Linked DNA regions of Homo sapiens: region 1 is linked to region 2. The links come from fine-mapping of genetic effects on gene expression. A gene starts in region 2. The other region holds a variant in brackets. All regions are shown on one strand. Distances are from middle to middle.

What was found. PIP is the estimated chance that this variant, and not a neighbour inherited with it, causes the effect.
Region 1: its variant is the best candidate, but not a certain one, in a credible set for the expression of LINC00467 in lymphoblastoid cells (GEUVADIS, PIP 0.75).

The regions. Positions count from the first base shown.
Region 1 is chr1:211,422,496-211,430,838 of GRCh38, forward strand. It overlaps LINC00467 (long intergenic non-protein coding RNA 467), which reads left to right. Exons shown (of 6, transcript NR_026761.2): 5 at 3,716-3,788. Among named protein-coding and RNA genes, the nearest start is that of LINC00467, 44 kb to the left of the region's middle. The variant C/CT (reference allele first, on the strand shown) is at 3,847.
Region 2 is chr1:211,378,474-211,386,816 of GRCh38, forward strand. It overlaps LINC00467 (long intergenic non-protein coding RNA 467), which reads left to right and starts at 4,282. Exons shown (of 6, transcript NR_026761.2): 1 at 4,282-4,452. LOC124904504 (a long non-coding RNA gene) reads right to left here and starts at 4,271. Exons shown (of 2, transcript XR_007066868.1): 1 at 4,120-4,271; 2 at 1-3,925. LOC107985259 (a long non-coding RNA gene) reads right to left here and starts at 5,811. Exons shown (of 2, transcript XR_001738447.1): 1 at 4,798-5,811; 2 at 4,353-4,481. RefSeq lists an enhancer at 4,395-4,464.

The DNA of each region.
Region 1 (8,343 bases), 44 kb after region 2:
AAAAAAAAAAGAAAAGAGGTTTATTTGGTTTATGGTTCTGCAGGCTGCACAAGAATGGCGCCAGTATCTGCTTCTGGCAAGAGACTGAGGCTGCTTCCACTCATGGCAGAAGGTGAAGGGGCGCCTGCAACTGCAGATCTCATGGTGAGAGAGAAGGCAAGAGAGAGAGGAAGAGGTACCAGGCTCTTTCAACAACCAGTTCTAGGTGAACTGTTGTGGGAACTAATAGAGTTAGAACTCACTCATTACTGAGAGAATGGCACCAAGACATTCATGAAGGATCTGCCCCCATGATCCAAACACCCCATTAGGCCCCACTTCCAACATTGGGGATCAGATTTCAACATGAGGTTTGGAGAGTCAAATATCCAAACGATAGCAATGGTGAAAATGTGTGCTGGGCTTATTGAAGGAATAGAACAGTGTACATTTATAAAAGAACAAGAAATCATCACAGTTTATAATGTCTAAGAGAGAGTTCTAAATCAAAAGCATTGTTAATGAGGCAGATGACTCTGGAGGAAACATTTTAAAAAGCCATCCAGCAGAAAGCCTTCTTATCCTTAGAAGACCCACTTCTTGGTCTCTCACCTGCTTCTGATAACTTAGAAAAATGGTGTATAGTAACCTTTTAATCAAAACACAGCATGATAGGTGGGGACTGAAAGCCTGCCATTGTTTGTTGTTGCTGTTGTTTCACAGCTGATACAGGTATTCTGGTGGTGCTACTGTGCTGCTTAGTTACCCTGAATGCATTATTTTTTCACTGTATTACTGGTATGTCATATTTTTTGCTGTTACGTACTTTTGTGTGAATAAGTATAGGAAAAGGATTCCTTATCAGTAGCAAATAAATAAATTCAGAGTCAGGAATGATGGTGATGCCCATCAACCACAGATTACCCACATGGGTAGTGGTTGAGGTAGTGACACCTTTGTTTTCTGGTGGTATGATGCATGCAAATTTTATTTTATGCACAAAATTATTAAAAATTATTGCATAGGTCAGGCACGATGGATTATGCCTGTAATCCCAGCACTTTGGGAAGCCGAGGCAGGTGGACCTTTTGAGGTCAGGAGTTCTAGACCAGCCTGGCCAACATGGTGAAACCTCATCTCTACCAAAAATACAAAAATTAGCCAGGCATGGTAGTACGCGCCTATAATCCCAGCTACTCTGGAGGCTGAGGCACAAGAATCTCTTGAATCCGGGAGGCAGAGGTTGCAGTGAGCCAAGATCGTGCCACTGCACTCCAGTGTGGGTGACAGAGCAAGACTCTGTCTCAAAAAATTATTGGCTGGGTGTGGTGGCTGACACCTGTAATCCCAGCACTTTGGGAGGCCAAGGTGGGTGGATCACAGGAGTTTGAGACCAGCGTGGCCAACATGGTGAAATCTTGTCTCTGCTAAAAATACAAAAATTAGCTGGGCGTGGTGGAGCGTGCCTATAATCCCAGCTACTTGGGAGGCTAAGGCCACAAGAATTGCTTCAACCTAGGTGGTGGAGGTTGCAGCGAGCCGAGATCCCACCACTGCACTCCAGCCTGGGTAGTAGAGCGAGACTCTGTCTCAAAAAAAAAAAAAAAATTATTGTATAAAATTATCTTCTGGCTATGTGTTTAAGGTATATGTGAAATATAAACTAAGTTTATTAATTAATTTATTTGTTTTGAGACAGGATCTGTCTCTGTCACCCAGGCTGAAGTGTAGTGATGCAATCCTAGTTCACTGCAGCCTTGAACTACTGGGCTCAGTTGATCCTCCCACCTCAGCTTCCTGAGTAGCTGGAACCACAGGTGCATGCTACTGCACCTGGCTAATTTTTAATTTTTTTTTTCTAGAGACATGATCTCTCTATGTTGCACAGGCTGGTCTCAAACTCCTGGCCTCAAGGGATCCTCCTGCCTCAGCATCCTGAGTAGCTGGGATTACAGGCATGAGCCACTGCGACCAGCCTTGAATTTTGTTTTTAGAACTTGGGTCCTATCCTTAAGATATCTCATTCTGTATATGTGAATATTCCAAAATCACAAAATATTTAAGATTAGAAATACTTCTGGTCCCAGGAATTTTGGATAAAGAATACTCAACTTGTATCTTTGTTTGCCTGGAGGCCTTGGGTGATGTGATTTACGATAGGGCTGGCCACACCAGATAGTCTAAAAATGTGATTTAGGATGGGGAAAAAATCAATTTTAAAAGGTCTTACAACCCAGTAGACAAATGTGCAGAAGATATGACCAGACAGCTCACAAAAGGAAGATATAAATGCCTCTTAAATTTATTTAAAGATGCCCAAACTTACTCGTGGTAACAAAAATGAAGATTTTAATTAAACATGTCATTTTTCACCTATCTAATTAGTTAAAAGATTCAAAAGTTTGTTATCACATCATGTGATAACATGGGGAACAAGGTTCGGGGAAGTGTAGGTCCTTTCTGCTGATGGGAAAGAACATTGATTCAGCGTCAGTGGAGGGCAGTATGACAATATCTATTAAAATTAGGAATATATATAATCCAGAGTCCTCAATTACACTTCTAGTAATTTATTCACACACCTTTAAAACCACCTTTACAGGTTATTTGTAGCAATATTGTATGTAAAAGATTGGAAACAACATAAATGTCCATCTGCAGTAGGCTGATTAAATTCTGGAATCTCTATACAGTGGAATATATTGCAATCAAAAAATACTAAGTAATCCTTTGCTTACTGATTAGGAATGGCCTTCAAGTTATAGCCACACAGGATGGTGTGTAAAAATATGTTACCATTTATGGAAGTAGTGGTGTTGAAGGGAAGAACATATATATTTAGTTGCCTATAAATGCATACAAGTATCTTTGGAAAGATATGCAAAAAAATTGTAAGATTTCTTGTTATCTTTGGGAAATATTATGGTCTAAATGTGTTTCTCCAAAATTCATATGCTGAAATTCTAATCCCCCAATGATATATTAGATGGTGGGGACTTTGGGAGGTAATTAGATTTAGATGAGATCATGAGATTAGATACCCCATGATGGGATTAGTGCTCTTATAACAAGAAGAAGAGGCCAGGCGTGGTGGCTCACCCTTGTAATTCCAGCACTTTGGCAGGCTGAGGCAGGCAGATCACTTGAGGTCAGGAGTTCGAGACCAGCCTGGCCAACATAGTAAAACCCCGACCCTACTAAAAATACAAAAATTGACGGAGCGTGGTAGTGCACACCTGTAATCCCAGCTACTTGGGAGGCTGAGGCAGGAAAATTGATTGAACCCAGGAGATGGAGGTTGCGGTGAGCCGAGATTGTACTACTGCACTCCAGCTTGGGTGAAAGAGTGAGACTCCGTCTCAAGAAAAAAAAAAATTAAGAAGACGACGAGATATTAGAGCTTCCTCTCTCAACTCTGTGGGAATACCATGATAAGAGGTAGTCTGGAGACCAGGAAGTGGGCCCTAACCAGACATTGAATCTGATGACAACCTAATCTTGGGCTTCCAAATTTCTAGAACTGTGAGAAATGTCTGTTGTTTAAGCCACCCACCTGTGGCATTTTGTTATAACAACCGTAAGTGTCTTAAGGGAAAATTTAGATGGCTGGTTGACAGGTGGAAAGGAGATGTTTTGCTATTTAAATTTTGGGCCATGAATATAATCACTACTAAAAAATAAGGTCTGTGTCTTTTTTTATTGAAGCAATCATTAATATGTTTTCTTTTGTTTTAAGGACAAAATATGAAACACCAAGAAAAAGAGAAGGAAAAAAAGGAGGAAACAACCACATATGTCACCTTTCCAAGGTATCATGTGTTTCATGTTTAAGAAATTTATTTTGCAGTACTTTTGGTAGTCGGTTTA[C/CT]TTTTTTTTTTTTTTTTTTTTTGAGATAGGGTCTCACTCTGTCGCCCAGGCTAAAGTACAGTGACACGATCACAGCTCACTGCAGCCTCGACCTCCCTGGGCTCAGGCAATTCTCCCACCTCAGCCTCCTGATTAGCTGGGACTACAGGTGTGTGCCATCACATCTGGCTATTTTTTGTAGACGTGGGGGTTTGCCGTGTTGCTCAGGCTGGTCTCGAACTGGGCTCAAGAAATCCTCCTGCCTCGGCCTCCCAAAGTGCTGGGATTAGAGGCATGAGCCATCACACCCAGCCTGGTTTACAAATCACAGTGTACGACATGTTAAGGAAAATATTATGCGTATAATTTTTCTTGTTGGTTATATAAACTGCATACTTTAAAATTTAGATATATATTGTCATCTCTTAAATATATCAAGAATAGTAGCAATCCCACATATTTCAAAGCATTAAAAATTGCCAATTGGATTTTATCTCTGTACCCTGAGATGACATTCAGTGAACAGGTGTCTCTTTCAAAGTTTATTTTTGAAAATATGTATTAACATAGCATAGTTTCATATAGTGTTCTTGAAGTCACATGATATAATTAAAATACAGAATTACAATATCCTTAGAAAAAACATTTATTGAAAATAACAAATGGGCCAGGCATGGTGGCCTGTAATCCCACCACTTTGAGAGGCCAAGCCGGGAGCACTGCTTGAGGCAAGGAGTTCAGATCAGCCTGGACAGCATACTGAGACTCCATCTCTATAAAAAAATTTTTAAATTAGCCAGGTGTGATGGTATGCATCTATAGTTCTAGCTACTCAGGAGACTGGAGTGAGAGGATAGTTTGGGCCCAGGAGTTCGAAGTTACAGTGAACTGTGATCACACCACTGCACTCAGAGTGAGACCCTGTCTCACAACAAAAAAAATTTTTTTTTTTTTGAGACGGAGTCTTGCTCTGTTGCATAGGCTGGAGTGCAGTGGCATGATCTCTGCTCACTGCAACCTCTGCCTCCCAGGTTCAAGTGATTCTCCTGTCTCAGGCTCCCGAGTAGCTGGGACTACAAGTGCATGCCACCATGCCTGGCTAATTTTTGCATTTTTAGTAGAGATGGGGTTTCACCACATTGGTCAGGCTGATCTCAAACTCCTGACCTCAGGTGATCCACCTGCCTTGGCCTCCCAAAATGCTGGGATTACAGGCATGAGCAACTGCGACTTGCCAAAAAAAAAATTTTTTTTAAGTAAAAATGTCCTGTGACTCTCAAATATGATCAAAATGACAAAGTTGGTTTTCATCTTGTATGGAATATTTAGGATACTATCTGCCCTAACAAATCAGGTGCTTTACAAATACATTTAGAAATTGCTTTAACTTGACTTGGTGTGCTGGCTTACACCTGTAATCCTAACGTGGTGGCAGACACCTGTAATCCCAGCTGTTCGGGAGGTTGAGGCAGGAGAATGGCTTGAACCCAGGAGGTGGAGGTTGCAGTGAGCCGAGATCGTGCCATTGCACTCCAGCCTGGGCACCAACAGCAAAACTCCATCTCAAAAAAGAAAAAAAATTACTTTAACTTGCTTAATATGGTATCTGAACTTGAACACTTCATGTCTGTATTTGTGACTATGCTTCTTATTTTATATTTATTCACGCTTTTTTTTCTATGGACTCCAAGAAGGCAGAAGCTAATAGAAAATAAATACTTCCCTAAGGGTACAATTCCATGGGTGCCCAGAGCAATTATTAATCTGTTTCAGATTGGTAGATCATGTAGTCCTCCCCAAAGGAGATGGCGGTATTTGAATCAAATCTTAAAGGATGAGTAAATTTTACTAGGCAGAAAAAAGGGTAAAGAGCATTCCAGGCTGAGGGAAAAGCATTAGCAAAGGTAAAGAGGAACAAAAGTTCATTTTGGATCAGGATATTTGCAGTTGAAACTGGAACATAAGATGAGAAGTGGCATGTAGTAAGAAATTAGACCAAAGTAGTAGTTTGGAACTAGTTTGGATTTTACTCTGTAGGCATTGGGAACATTTGAACATCTTAAAACAGAAATGACATTTTCTAACCTTTGTTCTAGGAATATAATTCAATATCAGAATGATTTGGAAGGAAAAAACCTACAGGAAGCTATTGTAGCCTAGTGAGGAAGATAAATATTAATACAGCCAATTTATAGATCAGACTAAAGACAATGATTGGGGCATTGAAAAGAACAGATAGAAGAAATATTGCAAAGGTAAAATCTGTATGACCTAGTAACTGGATATAGAAAGTCTGGAAGACATAGTTTTATAGAAATGCATTGTTTTAATGGGATAAATCTTATTAAAGGATCATCCTAAATGGTTTTTTAATACTGTGCACAAAGTTCCCAAATTTAAAGCATACAAATTTTGGAAATTAAAAGTTTTGCAAAATGGATGATTCCTTTAAAATAAGTATAATAAAGATTGATGGACTTCAGGCAGACTTGGCAGGATACAAGTTTTCATACTCAGTAGAGGACTCTTGTAAGTCATAGGTACCCTATAGTGTTATAATATCAACCCACCTTGGTGTGATTGGTGTCCTTATTTGCCACATAATCAACTAGTCAAATTGTAGAAGAGGAATAATCTGGTTAATAAATAATTAAACCTTATCAGATTCTAAAATTAATATTTGACAGATAAAGGATTTAAATATACTTAACTTTATAAATACCATCAGATATTTTTCCTAGGAAAAAGGTAATATGGTTGTTGCTGATGGTATTTATAAAGTTAAGTATAGTTAACACTTCAACAACATGGTTTGAACTTCAGGAGTCCACTTACATGTAAATTTATTTCAACCAAATGTGGATTGACAATACAGTATTTGTGGGATGCAAAACCTGCATATACTGAGGGCCAACTTTTTGTCAGCTGGTTCCACAAGGCTAACTGTGAGACTTGAGTATGCGTGAATTTTGGTATATGTGGAGGTCCTGGAACCAAACTTCCATGTCGACTGAGGCACAACCGTATCTCAAAATAAACATTGCATTGTGTTTTTACAGTTCTTCTATACTCTATAAAAACATTTCATTTGTGTTTAGTACACACTTGAACTAAAATTTCTAAGTAATTCCTACATTGCAAATGTTTGTTTTGTAGTAAATTGGAGGTAAATAGAGTCATTTGCTTGGAAAATTTTCTTGGAGGCCACAAATCCAGTGTCTAATGCAAGCAATGTCTAATGCAAGCATTCTGTCATAAACTGTTTCATTAGGATGGGGCACTCTACTATATAATTGATAGGCTGGGATTTGCCACCCAACTGACCAACTATTACAAGGATTTGGATAATTATAAATTACTTTTCTTCCTTTAAAATCTCCAGCACAGGCTGGGCCCAGTGGCACACGCCTGTAATCCCATCACTTTAGGAGGCTGAGGTGGGTGGATCACTTGAGGTCAGGAGTTCAAGACCAGCCTGGCTAACATGGTGAAACCCTGTCTCTACTAAAAATACAGAAATTACTGGGTATGGTGGTGCATGCTTGTAATTCCAGCTACTCGGGAGGCTGAGGCGTGAGAATCGCTTGAACCTGGGAGGTGGAGGTTGCAGTGAGTCTAGATGGCACCACTGCCATCCTGGGCAGCCTAGGTGACAGAGCAAGACTCCATCTCAGAAAAAAAAAAGAAAGAAAGAAAATCTCCAGCATATAACAATTGTGGATAATGTCAGGGCTGAATCAGTGGATGTCATCTAATAATAATAATAATAATAATAATAATAATAATAATAATAATAAAGCTTTTAATTTCTCAGTGCTTAGTATTGACCTGCTTCTTCTCCAGAATTCTTCATATTAGTAGATTTACAACCCAAGCCTGATCTGGGGATCATTCTTGATTATTCTCTCTCACCATTCCCCTGCCATTACTACCACACATGCATTTTTAGTGACAGTTATTATAGGTTTGGTCTCTTGAAAGCTCTTGTTTTTCTTTTTAGCTTACAAAGACTAAAAAGTGAATCTTCAAATTCCCAGCCTCCCTTACAGCTAGTAATAGCCATTTAGCACAATTTCTGGCCCCAGTGATACAAGGTAAAATTCTTGTAATCTTAGAAACATTATTCTTTTTTTTGAGACGGAGTCTTGTTCTGTCACCCAGGCTGGAATGCAATGGCACGATAGTGGCTCACTGTGACCTCTGCTGCCTGAGTTCAAGCGATTCTCCTGCCTCAGCCTCCCAAGTAGCTGGGATTACAGGCACCTGCCACAATGCCCAGCTAATTTTTGTATTTTTAGTAGAGACGGGGTTTCACCATCTTGGCCAGGCTGGTCTTGAACTCCTGACCTCCTGATCCACCTGCCCTCTGCCTCCCAAAGTGCAGGGATTACAGGCATGAACCACTGCATAGAAACATAATTCTAAGATGAGAGTTAAATAGGTTCAAATTAGAATACAATAGATTGGGGGCATGTGCCCAAGTTTCATTTAACTCAGTGAGGGAACCAGTAGGATGAA
Region 2 (8,343 bases):
AGGCTGAGGAGGGTGGATCACAAGGTCAGGAGTTCGAGACCAGCCTGGCCAACAGGTGAAACCTCGTCTCTACTAAAAATACAAAAATTAGCCGGGCGTGGTGGCGGGCACCTGTAGTCCCAGCTACTCGGGAGGCTGAGGCAGGAGAATTGCTTGAACCTGGGAGGCAGAGGTTGCAGTGAGCTGAGATCATGCCACTGCACTCCAGCCTGGGTGACAGAGTGAGACTCCATCTCCAAAAAAAAAAAAAAAAAAAAGTGAGCAAGATGAAGAAGGAAACATGCCTAACTCTGGCTACCAGTGGGGACCGCCAGTGTTTGTGGAAGTTGCAGTTTTGGTGTCAATGGTGGCAGCAGCAATGGATTCTCACTAGATCGTCTAGTGTGTTTGGGTACCGTTGTTTCCATATTTGGCCTCTGGCTCTCCTAGAGATTCTGTGAGCTACATGATTTTTTAAAAGTCCTTTTCTTTCTCAACCAGAGTGGATTCCGTTGCTTGTAACTAACTGCCTGACCTAATCAAGCTGAGATCTGAAAGATGAGTCAGTCGTGGGAAGAGCTGTCAGGGTGGATCAGTAATCTGAGCAGAGGGCACTGAAGAGTGTTGGCTCAAGGAACTGAGAAGAGGATAGTGTGGTGGGAATTTGGTAGAAATCAGGAGAATGATAGTTGATGAGGTTAGAGAGGGAGGCACAGGGTTTAGAACCTGAGGGCTCAGGCCATGGTGAGAAGTTTATGGTTTATGTAAAGTATAATGAAAGTTAACATATGATGGGCAGAGGATGCATGATCTGATTAATGTTTTGCCTCTTAATGTGGAGCACAGATTAGAAGGGGGACAAGAGAGAACATGGGAAGAGTATTAAGGTTAAATCGTATTGAAATTGCATTTCATGTCTGTTCCCTTATGAGACCACTGAAGCCGAGAACCATGTCTAATTCAAAAGTGCACAGCAGGTGCTCAGTGTATTAAAATGAATGAATACACTAATGCACTGAATTTTTGTAACAACTCTGATAGGCAAGTCTTCTGCCCATTCCATAGATGAAAAATCTGGTAAAGAGATCCAAGCATTAGGCACTGTCCTAAGAATGTTACATATATTAACATATTAATCTTAGAACAACCTCATGAGGTATATGCTGTATTATCCCCACTTTACAGATGAAACAACTGAGGCACAGAGAGTTTATGTAATAAGCTCTAGGTTACTCAGCTAATAAGTGGTAGTGCTAGGATCTGAATCCAGGCAGTCTGGCCTCACAGGCTCCACTCTTAACCACTACACAGACTGCCTCATATGGATACTGATGAATTCTAAACACACACACACACATATATATAAAGATACACCTTTAAATGAGTTAGAAGAGTAACTACTATTCATAGAATAAAAATCAAATATAACTTTCAAACCACTAAAGCGGGAAAAAAACTGGAAAAAAAGACTGTCAAACCAAAGGCAGTAAAGAGAACAGGAAGCATGATACATAGAAAAAAATGAGTGAGATATATCTATGAATAAGTTAAGTGTTAGTATTAACAGGGAGAAATCTCAAATGAGGGGGACATGTACATGCTTTTAAAAAACATACCGAAAACAAAATAGAGTTAATAACTGCATTAGCTTTATAGTCAGAGAAACTCTTGCACACGTGTACCAGGAAACATGTACAAGAAAATTTACTGTCAGCAGTTGGTAACAGCAAAAAAAAAACCAAACAACAAAACAAAAAAACTGGGGCAAAAAAATAACCTGTGTTGGCATGGAATGGAGCAACAGCAGCTCTCCTACATTGCTGATGGAGGGTAAGTTAGTACAACCACTGGAGAACAATTTGGCAATATCAAAGTTGAACTGTGCAAACCCTTCCACCTTGCAATTCCATTTCTAGACATTATCCTAAGGAAATTCTTACCATATGTCTAAGAAGCTGTGTGCAAGAACTAACTCATGTTATAATGACAGAAATCAGGAATCATGAAATTGCTAGCAACTGGAGAATGGATAAATGGTGGTACAATTATACAATGGAATACTATTCAGCAGTTAAAATAAAACTAGAACTACAGGAATCATCCTGGATAAATTTTACATACATAATTATAGGTGGCAAAAGTAAGTGACATGCATATCATTTATATTAGGTTTAAAAAGCATAAAACAGTACTTTATGCTACTTAACATCGCTACATGTATTTGGAGCATACATAAAAGCTTTCATGGGAATGACAGATACCAAATTCAATGAAGTAGTTAATTTCAGAGAGGAAGAGAGGGAGAATGAGATTGCAGGCAGTTTCACAAGGAGCTCTAACTGAATGTTAAAATCTGAAGCAAATAAGAGAAAATGTTAAAATGGGATAAAGCTAGATGGTTGGTATACAAGTGTTCATTATATTATTTTCTGTAACTGTACATTCTGGTAATATTTCATATTAAACATTTTAAAGGAAAGTTAAGCTTCCAAGATTCTATAAAAAGAACAAAATAAACCCAAAGAGATAAGAAGAAATTAATGAAGGCATACATTAATGAAAGAGAAATTACTTTTAAGACAGATTTTATCTATAAAACCAAAAGCTGGTTTGATAAATATGATCAAGAAAAAGACTCCAATACAATATATAAGAATATATATATAAGAATATATAAGAATGGTTGAGAACAATATGAGATTTTTTTAAATGTTAGAAAATATAGCTGAAATACTTTTTTTTTAAAGATGGAGTCTCGCTCTGTCCCCCAGGCTGGAGTGCAGTAGCAAAATCTCAGCTCACTGCAAGCTCCGCCTCCCGGGTTCAAGCCATTCTCCTGCTTCAGCCTCCTGAGTAGCTGGGACTACAGGCGCCCGCCACCATGCCCGGCTAATTTTTCATTGTCGTATTTTTAGTAGAGACGGAGTTTCACCGTGTTAGCCAGGATGGTCTCGATCTCCTGACCTCGTGATCCGCCCTCCTCGGCCTCCCAATGTGCTGGGATCACAGGCGTGAGTCACCGCACCCGGCCAATACTTTTCTAGAAAAAACTAATTTTCTCAAGAAGCAAAAGAAAAAATTCTAGGTATCAATAACGATGGACGCTATATAAAAAACAAAACTATCCATTAAGATGGCACCACACCCAGAAGGCTTTAAAGATGAGTTCTTCAAAACCTAAGAAATGTATCATTCACACATGCTATGTCTATTCCAGGTCATACAAAAATAAGTTAACCTGTCTGACTCCTAGCACAACCTGATACCAAAACTAGACAAGGACAGCAAAAGAAAACCATAAGCCAATCTAACTTAGGTGCATACATGAAAATCCAAAATTAACTACACAGCAAATTGCATCCAGCAATATATTGAAAAAATAAGATACCAGGATTCTAAGTTTGGCTCACCATTAGAAAATCTATTATTGTAGTTATTTTATTGTAGAGTAATGGAAAAAAGGCCATACAATCATCTCAAAGACTGATACTGAAAATACTTGGTAAAACTTAGTCATTTGCTGATTAAAAAAAAAACCGATATGGTAAACTACGAAAAGAACATAATTTGCCTATACACCCACACACACACACACCATAAACCTGCAGAAGATATCTTGAATGAAACCTAAGATGCAATCCAAAATAACTCCTGGTAAGAAATAAGTACCTCCGGCTACTATTCAGTGTTGCACTGGATTCTTGGGAAAAGCCAAAATTGTTCTTTACAGATAAATTCTTACCTACAAATCAAAGAGGACTGCCTGTCAAATTTTTAGAATACGAACGTTTAGTGAAGTGTCCAGATAGATCAACAATCAAAAGCCATTCTTATACAAGGATACTAATGGATTAATAGTCTATTAGTAAAAACAAACTACAATAACAAAAATAGCTATGAAAAAATGTTAAATGCGCACAACACCAAGCGAACTGCAACGCTTTACCTGAAAAACAAAGGGAGAACTGAATTAATTTAAAAAAATAGCCACATTGCTGGACGGGAATTCTCAATATTGTACTAGTATCCAATCTCGGCAAATCTACAAAAATATGGAATCCCAAACAAATCCCTGGAAATCTTTGCCATTTGGGCGCCAATCTACTAAAGAAATCGGCCCCAGGGTGTGAGGTTTCTCACATGTGCGTGAAAACGCTTCGAGAGGGGTGCAGCCGCGGACACAAAAACCGTGGCTTGAGTCCCCGCGCCCCTCCCCTCCCCTCCCCTCCCTCCCTCCAGTCCAGCAGCTCTTGCCTAAGGCTCCCGCGACCGGAAGAGTCGCTTCCGCTCCCGCCCCGCTCTGTGGCGTAGGCCGGACATTTCTAGTCGACTGTTGCGCGTGCGCGCGCTGTGACGTTCCCTACGCGGTCGGGCGTTGGGTTTCGCGGCGCTCGCCGCACTGGTTGTTCAGCACCTTCGGTCCGGTTGAGGTTGTCAAGTCGGACCAAACAGGTTGTTTCTCTGCAGTTTCCAGTAAGTGACCGTTCCAGCCGGGGCTGTGGCTAGAGTGTGAAGGCAAACCGGTAGAAGCCGCGCCGCCATTTTCTTCCCACCTCACTCTTTCCTCAATCTCCCTTCGGTCACTCCGAGGGGACTGTTGGTAGCCCCCCTCTGCCCGGTCCCCCGCTAATGAGGCCGCTCCCAAGCTCTGAGTTTCCCCAAAAGATGTGTCCTTTGTCATGAAAGCTCTCGTAGTATTTAAGTGCTAATACTCGACGGCCGCCGACTTCTCAGATGCACCCTGGAGGGTGTGCTCTTGGCCTGACACTTATTAGCCCTTCCGCTTCCTACAGTTGTGATGGGCCCTCAGATACTCACCAGGAAAATGTGATGCCCGCACCACCACTTCTTACTCCAACTTTCTTTGTAATTATGTCCTCTGTTTCAGAATCCTACTGCCGCGGAACAAAAATGTACCAAGGACCATTCCACTTAACGTCCCTCCCTTCCTTCTCAAACCCTTAAGAGTGCCTTAAGAGTAAGGTACTGACCTAAGTGCTTTACATGCATTTTATTTAATCTTCCCACGCAGTCCTTAAGTAGGCAGACATGAGAAAATTGAGGCACAGAAAAGTTTAATAATTTGCTCAAGGCAACATAGGTTGGATGTGGTAGGGCTGAAATTTGGATTTATTGTGTAGCTTACTCAATCTGGTGTTGTTATCATTCATTCCTTTCTCTTTCCCAAATACTGAGTATTCCTTTTTTTCTTAGTTGCTTCTACAGAGGAATTTTTTTCCTTAATGCTGTTTAGAGGGTTCTTCTTGAGAAATTTGGGTTCTGTCTGAAAACCCTTTTCTCAGAGCTCTCCTTACACAGACGCTTAAGTGTTGTTTTTCCAAATCTAAGCTCTAAACTTAATAATATTTTGCATATCCAAAATGTGCTCATGCTTCCTTAAAAAAGTACCCCTAAACCAGTACCCACCAACCAGCCCCCTTCCTCTACCTCAATATGACAATGGTTATCACTATTCTCAGCAAACATTTGGGCAGCTAGCTTATGTAAGACAATAAAGGTAATTGGGGTTTTGAAGAACTCTGAGGTTTAGTTCCGACCTGAAGGAGAAACATGAAAAGGCCTTCATAAAAAGGCCACATAAAATAGCAGATAAATCCCATCTCAGTTGCACAGAATACAAATTGTATAAGAGCAACTTTGGACAAATCAGGTAAAAGTGCTAGATGTGTTTACTCATCTGTAAAATGTTAAGGTTAGGCTAGGTCACTAAAATATTATAAATCTAATTTCAGAGAGAGGAGTGATAACTCTGTACTCACTATTGAGGGAGGTGGAGGCTGTAGTTTGTTTTTAGTGTTTTTTTTTGTTTTTTTGTTTGTTTGTTTTTGAGACAGGGTCTCACTCTGTCGCCCAGGCTGGAGTGCAGTGGCGTGATCAGAGCTCACTGCAGCCTCCACCTCAGCCTCCTGAGTATCTGGGACTACAGGTGTGCACCACCATGCCCGGCTAATTTTTGTATTTTTTGTAGAGACAGGGTCTCACTATGTTGCCCAGGCTGGTCTTGAACTCCTGGCTTCAAGCAGTCCTCCCACCTTGGCCTCCCAAAGTGCTGGGATTACAGGTATGAGCCACTGCACCCCACCTGTAGTGTGTTCTCGATACAGAGACAAGGTTGAAGGATTCAGAGTACAATTTTCTCATTTTGAATATCTGATAAAATCTGTAGACCCTCCATCAACAGAGGATTGGGTAAAGAAAATGTGGTGGTGTGTGTGTGTGTGTGTGTGTGTGTGTGTATGCCATGGAATACTATTTAGCCATTAAAAAGTCATGTTTTTTCAGCAACATGGATAGAACTGGAAGCCATTATCCTAACCGAAATAACTCAGAAAGCCAAATATCACATGTTCTCACTTAAAGCAGGAGCTGAGAAGTGATGGGTACACGTACATATAGACACTGCAGACTACAAAAGGTGGGAGGATGGGAGGGGGGTGAGGGTTGAAAAGTTACATACTGGGAACAATGCTCACAATTTTGGTAATGGGTACACTAAAAGCCCAGGCTTCACCACTGTGCAATATGTACATCTAAGAATTCTGCACTCGTACCCTCTAAATATATAAAAATTATGTTTTTCTGAGACAGTCTTGCTTTGTCACCCAGGCTGGTGCAATCTTGGCTCACTGCAACATCTGCCTCCTGGGTTCAAGTGATTCTCATGCTTCAGCCTCCCGAGTAGCTGGGACTATAGGTGTGCACCATCACACCTGACTAATTTTTGTAACTTTAGTAGATATGGGTTTTGCTACGTTGGCCTGGGTGGTCTCAAACTCCTGGCCTAAGCAATCAACCCACCCCGGCCTTCCCAAGTGCTAGGATTATAGGTGTGAGCCATGAGACCCAGCCTAAAAATAAATTTTTTAAAAAAGCTGTAGATCTTGCTCTGGAAATAAAATTCACATCCATACAACATTTTATGCTTAATTTTAGGAGATTTGTTGACTACTCCTTCTCAAATTTAAATGTTAAAAACCCTTGATTTAGGGAAAAAGTATTATTCAGAACACCAGAACTAAGCCAGATGTGGAAGGCCTTTATCTTGTGGGCAGTGTTGAACCATTTGAGGTCTAAAAAGATAAATCTGGTAGCAGTATGAAAAATGCATGACAGTGGGAAAAAGCAACGAGACTAGTTAAGTGGCAGGGGAATCATTTAGGTAGGAGACTGTGCCAAGCAGTATTGGGAATGAAGAGAAATCAGAAGAAGTATTGACAAGGACAAATCAAATATCTGACTGGATATGGAATTGAAAGAGGAAATCAATGATAACAAGGTTCGAGGATCAGTTATGCTGCAGGTCTACCTTGTCTTCAGTATTTTATTGAAGTCATTCCTATAACATCTGTGCTAGTGCTTGCTTCAGTAGCACATATACTAAAATTGGAATGATACAGAGAAGATCAGCAAATAAAAATTTAAGTACAAATTTAAAAAAGAAACAAACATACGTGCTCTAAGAGCACTCCCAACCCAACAGACATTAAAAAGGATGAGGTAATACACGAACACCTCTGTACTTATAAATTTGATAATGTGAGAGAAATGGGCCACTATCAAAATTACCAAAACTCACCCAGGACAAAATAGGTAAATGAAATAGTCCTATAAGTATTAAAGAAATAGAATTTGTGAGAAAAACGAACAAACAAAACGACAACCAAAAAACAAACCCTGGCAAGAGTCTTCTTGCCAGGAAGAAAAAAAAAGAATAATAACTTTAAAAAAAAAGAAAGCTCCAGGCCGAGATAATTTCACTGGCAAATTTCACCAAACATTCAAGGATGAAAAAATAACAGTTCTCTTACAAGCTCTTTGGATCGTAGAAAAGGAAGAAACACTTAACTCATTTTATGAAGGCAGCATTTTCTGGATACCAAAACCAGATAAAGACAATACAAAAAACAAATCTAAAAGTTAAAATCCCTCATGAACAAAGATACAACTTCCTCAAAAAATAATAGCAAATTGAATTCAGCAGTATATTAGAAAAATAGTACATTGTGACGAAGTCTCATCCCAGGAATTCAATATTTGAACATCATATAATCCTCCATATTAACAGACTAAATAAGAAAAACTACATGATGCTATTAATAGATGCAGAAAAACACTTAAGAAGATTCAGCATTCATTCATTATTCTTAAAACTCAGCAAACAAGTAATAGAAGAGAACCTAATAAAAGTCATCGACAAAACCCATAGCTATTGTTATATTTAATGGTGAAAGACTGAATGCTCTCTACCCTCCAAGATTGGGAACTAGGCAAGGATGTCTCTTCCACTACTGTTTAATATTTTACTGGAAATCCTAGCAATTATAGTAAGTCAAGAAAATGGGA